2 separate regions of the Homo sapiens genome follow, and region 2 is linked to region 1. Evidence: fine-mapped expression QTL. A gene starts in region 1. The other region holds a variant in brackets. All regions are shown on one strand. Distances are between the middles of the regions.

The links. PIP is the estimated chance that this variant, and not a neighbour inherited with it, causes the effect. A credible set is the group of variants that fine-mapping cannot tell apart.
Region 2: its variant is the best candidate, but not a certain one, in a credible set for the expression of DCAF4L1 in whole blood (INTERVAL, PIP 0.80).

Annotation. Positions count from the first base shown.
Region 1 is chr4:41,979,357-41,983,739 of GRCh38, reverse strand. DCAF4L1 (DDB1 and CUL4 associated factor 4 like 1) reads right to left here and starts at 1,984. Exons shown (of 1, transcript NM_001029955.4): 1 at 1-1,984. The coding sequence starts at 1,947. The coding sequence ends at 757. RefSeq lists enhancers at 722-1,494, 1,054-2,253.
Region 2 is chr4:41,878,357-41,882,739 of GRCh38, reverse strand. It overlaps LINC00682 (long intergenic non-protein coding RNA 682), which reads left to right and starts at 129. Exons shown (of 2, transcript NR_104143.1): 1 at 129-260; 2 at 1,927-3,219. RefSeq lists enhancers at 675-1,426, 2,179-2,931. The variant C/A (reference allele first, on the strand shown) is at 2,529.

The DNA of each region.
Region 1 (4,383 bases):
TCCTAGATTACAAAAAGTCAAAGCCAATTCCTTGAATCTGAACTTCAAGTCACCATAATAGAAACCGGAGCTGCTGTACCTTACATTCTGAAAGGTACCTCAACAAAAGCACATCAAGGACTGTTTAAAACTTCTAGTATTTAAAAAGATCCATCTTTCCTTCCAATGCCTATGGATGATAACAATAAAAGGAGAACCTTAAGAGATCTGCTATTGAGTTTGAGAAGGCCAAATTTAATGATTCCAAACTCCAGCCTTAAATATTTCTGTAGAGACTCTGAGAAATTACCTCTCCCTTGTCTCCACTCCCACTGGCTTCCTCAAGCGCAGATGCCTGGGACCCTGTATGATTAGTCAAACAGTCTTACCAGTACCATCATTATGCTTCTCTAAAGGGCTACTAGTGAAAGAAGCTGCTTTAATTTATTTTAGTTTTTGCCAATCTTCAGTCCTTAGAAAAGTCTTAATTATTTAAAAAAAAAAAGGGTTGGGGAGGTGGTTAACTGTTCTAAGGCATTCAACAAGAGGAAACAGGTACCTTTTATGAAAAGGACTTTCAAGTTAAGTCCACAGTTTAACTGAAATAACTTTACAAGAACGTCTCCACATAAAACTCTTAACACCTTACCCCTGGCAGCCGGATGGATGCGATCTATATACAACACGTCTCTTAAAATGCTCTCACAGAAACGGTAATAAGATACTCTTAACTTCCTTAAGTCAAATCCACATTCGGCCGCGCTGCCACCTGCAGAATTAGCTGAAGGGGAAACAATAAAGGTCCTGCCGGACAGCCATGAGCAGCCCTGGTGCTGCTCCCCGGATGCCCCCGAGCCGAGAAGCGAAGGCCACGCTGGGAATGTCGTCCTCGGAGGCAGAGTACGGGGAAGGGATGGTTCTGAGCAGGTGGGCATCATGGAGGCTCCAGATTCTCGTGTAGCAGTCCTGGCCCACTGCCACCACGATTCCCTCTTCCTCGTGCACATGCAGGGGCAGATAGGCGGACTCATTCACGTGACCTTCGTACTGCCTTACACATTTAGTGGCCCTCAGATCCCACAGCTTGATCTTTCCAGTCATGTCTGATGCCATCAGGCATTGCTCTTCTTGGAGGATTTGCACAGAGGTCACTGCTGAGTCATGGAACAGGCGAGTGGCCCTCCACCCCTTGCCTCGATTTCTACAACGCAGATCAATGGCAAAGATCTCCCCGGAGCGACAGCCATTAAACAGCAAAGGAGCCGTACTAGCAAACTGCTGGGCCAAGACATCACTGCTGGTATCAAATGACTGCTGGTGTCCCGTCGCCACGCTGGTCAACAGGACCTGCTGAGACAAGCCTGCACTAAAGCAGTGATATGCCCGGGTGTTGAGGGACCACGCACAGGACCAGGCCTCTGGGATCTGGAAACTGCAGAGCATGCCAGGCTGGTTAACTCTTGTGTGAACACTTAAGAACCGCGACGCTGGGAGCAGCACTGCACAGCTTGGAGCATCTGTGATTCCCTCGAAGCACAGCAGAACGTGAGAGTCCAACTGGTTCAGCGAGGCCCAGCACAGGGACTTCACCTTCCGGTTGGGGACGTAGAGGTTTCTGAGCACGTACACGTGGAACGAAGGGATCTTCAGAGTTCGCAGGCTGATGATGCCGTACTTGGAGCCTTCGACTTCGACCTGGTTCACTACGAAGAGCTGGTCGCTGTTGGTACTCGCCAGAATGAAGTTAAATCGGTCGCTCGCCAAAGAGGAGGGATCCAAGCTCCGAATTTGGACCTTTTTCCGCTCCATGCAGCTCACACGCAGCTCGTTGGCTAAACGGGAGTAACTGGTGACGTTGAGGAAACCTAGCTGGCTTTTTCGGAGCATGGAAGATGCATTAAATCCCATTCTGGCTACCTTTTTCAGCTTGGCCTCTTCCTCGAGGAGTCGCAGCCTTTCAGCCTCCATTTCCTCCTGCGGAATGTTCCTCGTGACAGGAAATTCTGCAGGATGTTCTTCTCCGTGACAGGATGTTCTTTTCCGTGACAGGAAGTTCCGTCCGGGTGCAAGCGGAAGTGTTGCTACTTTTTATCCTCTCTATTCTAGGAGGAAGTCCATTGTTACAGATGTGTATTACAAATCTCTTTTCCTACTCTGTGGGTTGTCGTATTCTCTCAGTGGTGTCTTGATGAAAGGAAGTTCTTGATGTTAAATTTTTTCCTTTCTCTTTTTGAGACAGGGTCTTGCTCTTTCACCCAGGCTGGAGTCCAGTGGCACGACCACGGCTCACTGCAGCCTGGAACTCCTGGGCTCAAGTGATTCTCCTACCTCTGCCCTACTTAGCTGGGACTATGGGCTCACAACACCATGCCAGGCTACTTTTTTTGTAAAGATGGGGTCTCCCTGCTTTGCCGATGCTAGTCTGGAACTCTTGAGCTCAAGCAGCCTGTCCGCCTCAGCCTCCCAAAGTGCTGGGATTACAAGCATGAGCCCACGCGCCCTGCCTGTATTTCTTATTTTTTTATTTTTTATTTTAAGACGGAGTCTCGCTCTGTCGGCCAGGCTGGAGTACAGTGGCGCGATCTCGGTTCACTGCAAGCTCTGCCTCCCACGTTCACGCCATTCTCCTGCCTCAGCCTCCCAAGTGGCTGGGACTACAGGCGCCCGCCACCACGCCTGGCTAATTTTTTTTGTATTTTTAGTAGAGACAGGGTTTCACCGTGTTAGCCAGATGGTCTCGATCTGCTGACCTCATGATCGGCCCGCCTCAGCCTCCTAAAGTTCCGGGATTACAAGCGTGAGCCACTGCGCCCGGCCGCCTGTATTTTTAAAATACAGTTAGAGACCAGCCTGGGCGGCATGGTGAAACTTTGTCTCTAAAAAAATACAAAGATTAGGCCGGGCGCAGTGGCTCACGCCTGTAATCCCAGCACTTTGGGAGGCGCAGGCAGGCGGATCACGAGGTCAAGAGATTGAGACCATCCCGGCTAACACGGTGAAACCCCGTCTCTACCAACAATTAAAAAAATTAGCCGGGCATCGTGGCGGGCGCCTGTAGACCCAGCTACTCTGGAGGCTGAGGCAAGAGAATGGCGTGAACCCGGGAGGCGGAGCTTGCAGTGAGCCGAGATCGCGCCACTGCATTCTAGCCTGGGCAACAGAGCAAGACTCTGTCTCAAAAAATAAATAAATAAATAAAATACAAAAATTAGCGGGGTATGGTGCACACCTGTAGACCCAGCTACTCAGGAGACTGGGAGGGAAAATCACTTGAGCCTAGGAGTCTTGGAGGGAAAATCACCTGAGCCCTGAAAGTTGAGGCTGCAGTGATCACCCCACTGCACTCCAGCCCAGCTGGGAGACAGAATAAGACCCTGTCTCAAAAAGAAAGAAAAATAAGTAAATAAATTATGAATTTATCCAAATTGTCCATTTGTTTCATTAATGGTTAGTGTCTTTCATGTTCTGTTCAGGACATTAGTACCTATTACATGATACTAGTAAAGTTTTGGGGTGTCTTCAAGAGGAGGCTGATATCTCCAGTCCCCATCTGGATGTTTCCTTTGCCACAAAGCTTGCTGACTCCCCTTACGCTATGAATTTCCAGGAATTTTGGAGGACTGGGGAGAGTTGGTAGGGACTACAGAGAAATCCGGTGATATCTGGACTATGGATCCTGTCGGAATCTACAGGCCCCAGAGCTGGGATCACAGAGAGCACAGGAGATTGAGGCCCACACACTTGCCATGGAACATAACATGGGACAAGGGATTTCTATGTATCAGAAGAATGTGTTTCACCACTGCCAAATGGAAGTCAGCTGACAGATGCAGAAGTCTTGCAAAGGGCTATCAAAGCATAGAGGACTGCTTGATACTGAGTTATCAGTGGGGCTGTTAGGAACCCCATATATTCTAACAATGACCTACAGAAAGCAGATAGCAACATGGCGGCAGTCAGACATTTAAGGCATTGCCTGTTTTCCTTCTTAAACCTCCTGACCCCACCATCGGAAGAGCAGGCACATGGAAAAAAAGGGGTGTGTATAAAGAAAGTTGGAACTACGGGTCTAGTCTGCTCTGGAAGGCATGGAGGAAGTTTTTGAAATAAATATGAGACTAATATTTTAAATCAGTAGGACCTAATCTTAATACCTAGAATGAAAGTTTTAATAACTAAGGAGGCTGATACTTTGAAGCAATGAAATCTGACAAAATACCAAGTGTAGAAATGATGAGACTTTCAAGCTTATGCCTCTTGAGGTGAGATTCTCAATCAAACTGATTACACATCTTTGTCTACCCTAGTATACTGTGGACATCTTTAGACAGGGATTGTTTCTTATCCATCTTTCTATCCTTACTGTCTAGTGTATAATATAGTACATGGGACATAGGATATAGA
Region 2 (4,383 bases), 100 kb after region 1:
CTGAAAATGTAGGCAATGTAAGCAATGTTAAATCTAATTTTTCTGTCCAAAACCTAATTAGCCATTTTAAAAAAGGTTAACGCCAGCGCCTGAGACGGTTTTTGTTTAATAATCCTATTACTGACGGCTCATCATGTATAAAATGGTGCAGTAGGATGCAAAATTTCCACTTGTTTATAAGTGTATCGCCGAGAAATGTATAAAATAATCGAGACCGGCGGAGGCAGGTCAGAGCCGTCTGGAATGCGCGCACCTTCAACGTAAGTAGCCGGCGCGGCCGCTCAGGGTTCGAGCCCCCACCTTGGCCGGGCAGGGGACACCTTGGCCGGGCACCTCCCGGGCTTCCGACAAAAAGGCCTCGGACTTTATTTGGGCCCGCGTTGGATTTCTGGCGGAATCGCCCTCGGGGTCGTTTGGGTTTGGAGGCTTCCGCCTTGCAGGGGGTTTCACAGGGTTGCAGCCTCGCTCGGGCCCAGGCCAGTGCGGATACTCGGGCCAGGGCAGCTTCGGGTTCAAGGAGGGTCGGCTTCTGAGCCGCTGCGACCGCCGCCCCCGCCCTGCACTGCACCCGCCTCCGGGGGTGGGGGAGGGGTACTTGCCGCGGAACGGGGTCTCCGAGGACCCTGGCCCGGAGAACGGAGGGAGAAGAAGGGACAGCAGTGAGGGCCGTGCAGGGCCACCCCTAAATGCCCCTCGACCGGCTCGCGTCCTGCCAAGGGCAATGTGCAGAAGCCCTGGGCGCGGGTGGAGTGGGACAGTTCTGGAAAATTCTGGCCCTTCTGGGGGTCTGGGATAGTTGGGAAAGGGAGAAAATGGGGCAGGGCGCCCAGGGGGCGGGGGCGGGCGCTGGGCTCGGTGGGGTCTCCGGGGAGCAGCCGTTACTCCTGGCGCCCCCCGTCCGCCTTTAGCGATGGTTTGGGAACCCGGGCGCTGGAAAGGCGCGGGTGCGGAGGGCGGCTGAGCCGCGCGGCTGCGGCACCGTGGGCGCGAGACCCCTGCGGAGAGGAGCGCGCGGACGCCGGGGGAAGCGCCTCGGGGCGGCTGGAGGCGCAGCACCCTGGGGGAGCCGGGGCGCGGGAGAGACAAAACTGTTCGAACCTTCTCTCCCTTCCCCACCCCCAGCGCCCAAACCCGGGGCGGGTGAGCGCGACCCTTGCAGCGACCCCTTGCCGAGCCCTGCCCGCGCGATTACTAAGGAGACGCGGCCTCCGGCACTGCCGTCCCCGCGCCGTTTGAAAACGGATCCATCAGCGGGTACCGGGCGTTTAAAGGGATCTTTCTGAAGGGACTTGTGGGAAAGGACAAAAGCAGGCGGCCCCATTCAGCTGACCAGTCAAAGGCGCTAAATGGGGACATCAAAAGGCGCCCTAACTGGGAATACGGATCCAATCGCAAGAGAAAAGAACCTGGTTTCTTTTCTTGGCCTCAACAAGGCTGAAAAGCCGTAAAGCAAATAGGCAAAGAATGCGGAGAGGGGCAGAAAGGAAAAATAAAGAAACAATCTCATGAATGCATTTTTCTGAGGCTTTAAATGAGAGGAGTGACAACTTCCTAGGCGCCGTTGGGGGCCGGGGTGCGGGGTCCGCCGCTGCGCGGACCCCCTCACCGAGGGAACCTCTCCCGCTCGGGCGCCCTTGCTGTTTCCACGCGCTCCTAGGCAAGGTTCTTTTTGTGGGTGTAATCTTTGTTCTTATTTAAATGCCTAGGAAGGGAAGGGAAGGGAATGGAGGATAAGGTAGAGAAGGGAAGGAAAGGGAAGGGAGATGGGAATGGAATGGGAAAGTAGGAAAAGCGGGACGCGGCGCGAAGCCCAGGTTTCCCATCAGCTTTTCTGCGGTCAGATTACGCTCACTAACACCCGAGCTTGTTATCTGACCTGGCCATCCCCGTCACATTCTTTCTACAAGTTATCTTTTCTCCAACCAGGGTATTTGGAGATTATTCGCACTGAATTTTCTGCCCGCCAAGAACGAATAGGATTGCCAAGCCACACCACTTTTTGGAGCCCGCTTATTCGCGCCTATCCACCCTCTCCTGTGCCCCAGGTTCCCTGAGCACGGGAATCCTTTCCGGGCATGGCCAAGTTTGTTCGGTGGCTCAGAGCGGGAAGGGAAGTGCAGTTCGACACCTGTCCAGCTGCTCCGCTTGGAGATCAAAGGCCGGCTATGGGCTGAGCGACAGATTTACGGGACGGTGGTACAGATTAAGGCGAGAACCCTGCCGGTCCTGGACTCGAGTTCGCACCCAAGGAAAGCGTACAGGTCCCTGGAAGCGGGTGGATGTCGGAGAGGCCGAGGCAGCCTGCGCTGTGGCCAGGCAGGCTTGGTGGGCTTTAGTCTCAGTATGTGTTCTTTAAAGTCTTGACAGGTTATTAGTAAAGGAAGGGGCACCCCAGGGTCATGAAGATGCTTCTCGCTCTGGCCCAAGCATGCTGAGGCTCGCTTATTCCTCGGCCAGGCCCAGTAAAACAGCTCAAGCACAGCCTGGAGTCTTCCCGCATCTGCGCGGGAGTAGAGTCTGGCTTTGGG[C/A]CCCGCGTACCCCGCAGTCGTCGGGGACCAGTTCGAGGCCACGGGAAGGGTTTCCGCGGCAGGGCGCGGAGTAAAGAGGGGAAGAAGGAATCCTCTCCGCGTGATCAGTAGGGCGGGCTTGTGATACTCTCACACCCAGGTTCCAGCTCAGCCCCCAAACTGCTGCCCCAAGAAAACAAGTTGGGGAGTGTGGATTTAGACATAACAACGGGTGTGAGCTGATGTCCTTACAACCAAAAATATTGAGACTAGAAATTCAGCTCCGAATCCACGACCCTCAGATTGATGCTTAATCGCACCCTCGACTCCAGAAAAGCTGCCGGGGACAGACATGGACAGGTTTTGCCAAGGGTTCATTAAAATAGTCTGCACTGGAATAACCGGGGTGCAAGAGATCACGTCTTCACTCAGGGCTTTGGGGATCCCCTCGTCGCCCCAGGTCAGTGGGTGGGGAGGAGGGCAAACTTCTGTCTTTTGTTTGTGGGTGAGGGATGCGAATTGTGGCAGCAGCCGAGAAAAGGGGGGAAATTAATTGCAGCCAATTAATAATTAATCCCCTTTAAACAGCTTTATTATCTCTTCTGGGCGACAGAGATTTGTCTGATAACCCCCTGAAGACCAAATGTCAAGTTTAACCAAATAGTTATTGCTTTATCAACCCGAGTCTGCAAATAAATTAATCAAAAGCAAATCTGTCCTTTGTGCGGCTCATTTGCTGGTAATGGATGGATATGAAGATTTGCCGATATTATTGTCTGTCATTCAATCTAACAAAGTGAACATTTATTGCATATATATTAAAAATTATCCCGGAATCGAGTGGCGCCGGGTTGCATTTATTGGAGTCTTCCCAGGGGTGAGGTCCCCTCGGATGGGGGCGCGTGGGATAGAAAGTGCAGGAGCGCGAGTCTCAAATCTCTTTAGGACTCTGTGCCTGCCTCTGTCCCCCTCCCCGCAGCGACCTCCCTCTATCCCCTTCCCTAGCCTTCGCCCCGGAGCCGCAGGACGTGCCTGCAGCCTCCTGTCGCGCGGCCAGGGCCAGCGGGGCGCGGGGAGCCCAGCTACTGTCAAAACAGAGTCCTTCAGCCTTAAGCACTCACAAGGGGTCCGGCCCTAGGAAATGTGGGGAGGGGGTGTGATTGAAGAGAGAGAAACGGGAGGGGGACAGCTTTCCTTTGTCTTCTCTCGAGTTACATCATTTTCTAATTAGGCATAAAATTGTCTTCATACACTGGTATTGCGGCCTTCATAAACATCGCCATTATGGTTTATAAGGACGCCATTGTGGTGAGGCTGTCCCAAAATAGAAAGAGCTGGGGAGGGAGAGGCCTGGAGTCCGGGAGGCCCCGCTTTGTCCTCCCCTGGGAGAAGATGGATGGCCAGTGTCACGCAGATGATGACTTGGGACTATTAAATTGTCAGAGGGGGGCAGAATCTTTACCAGCCCCCAGCGCTGGTGGAAAATTCTAGAGGCAGGAGCCGGGGGTTCTTGGATGGGAGGGGAAGGCCGGGCAGCTGGATTCGCTGGGCAGGTGGAAAAAGAGGTAAGTTAGTCGCTGGCAGAGGCAGAGCGGAGGGCAGTGGGGGCCGAGGCTTTGATCTCCTCCCGGGGCACCCTGACTTCGCTGCTCTCTGAGCTCAGGGCCACTGGATCTGGAGCTGACCTCCCACCCGATCCCCATCGCCAAGGTTGGGAAACAAGCAGGGCTAGAGAAATGAGAGGGGCAGCGAACCCGGAGGAGCGGCGGAGGGCTATGCCAGGCGGGGAGACAATTGTTCTCATTATTCGGAGCTGAGGCCCAAGCCCGGCCACCCGCCCGGTCGGGGGGCGCGTCGCTAACTGGATGGAGATGGA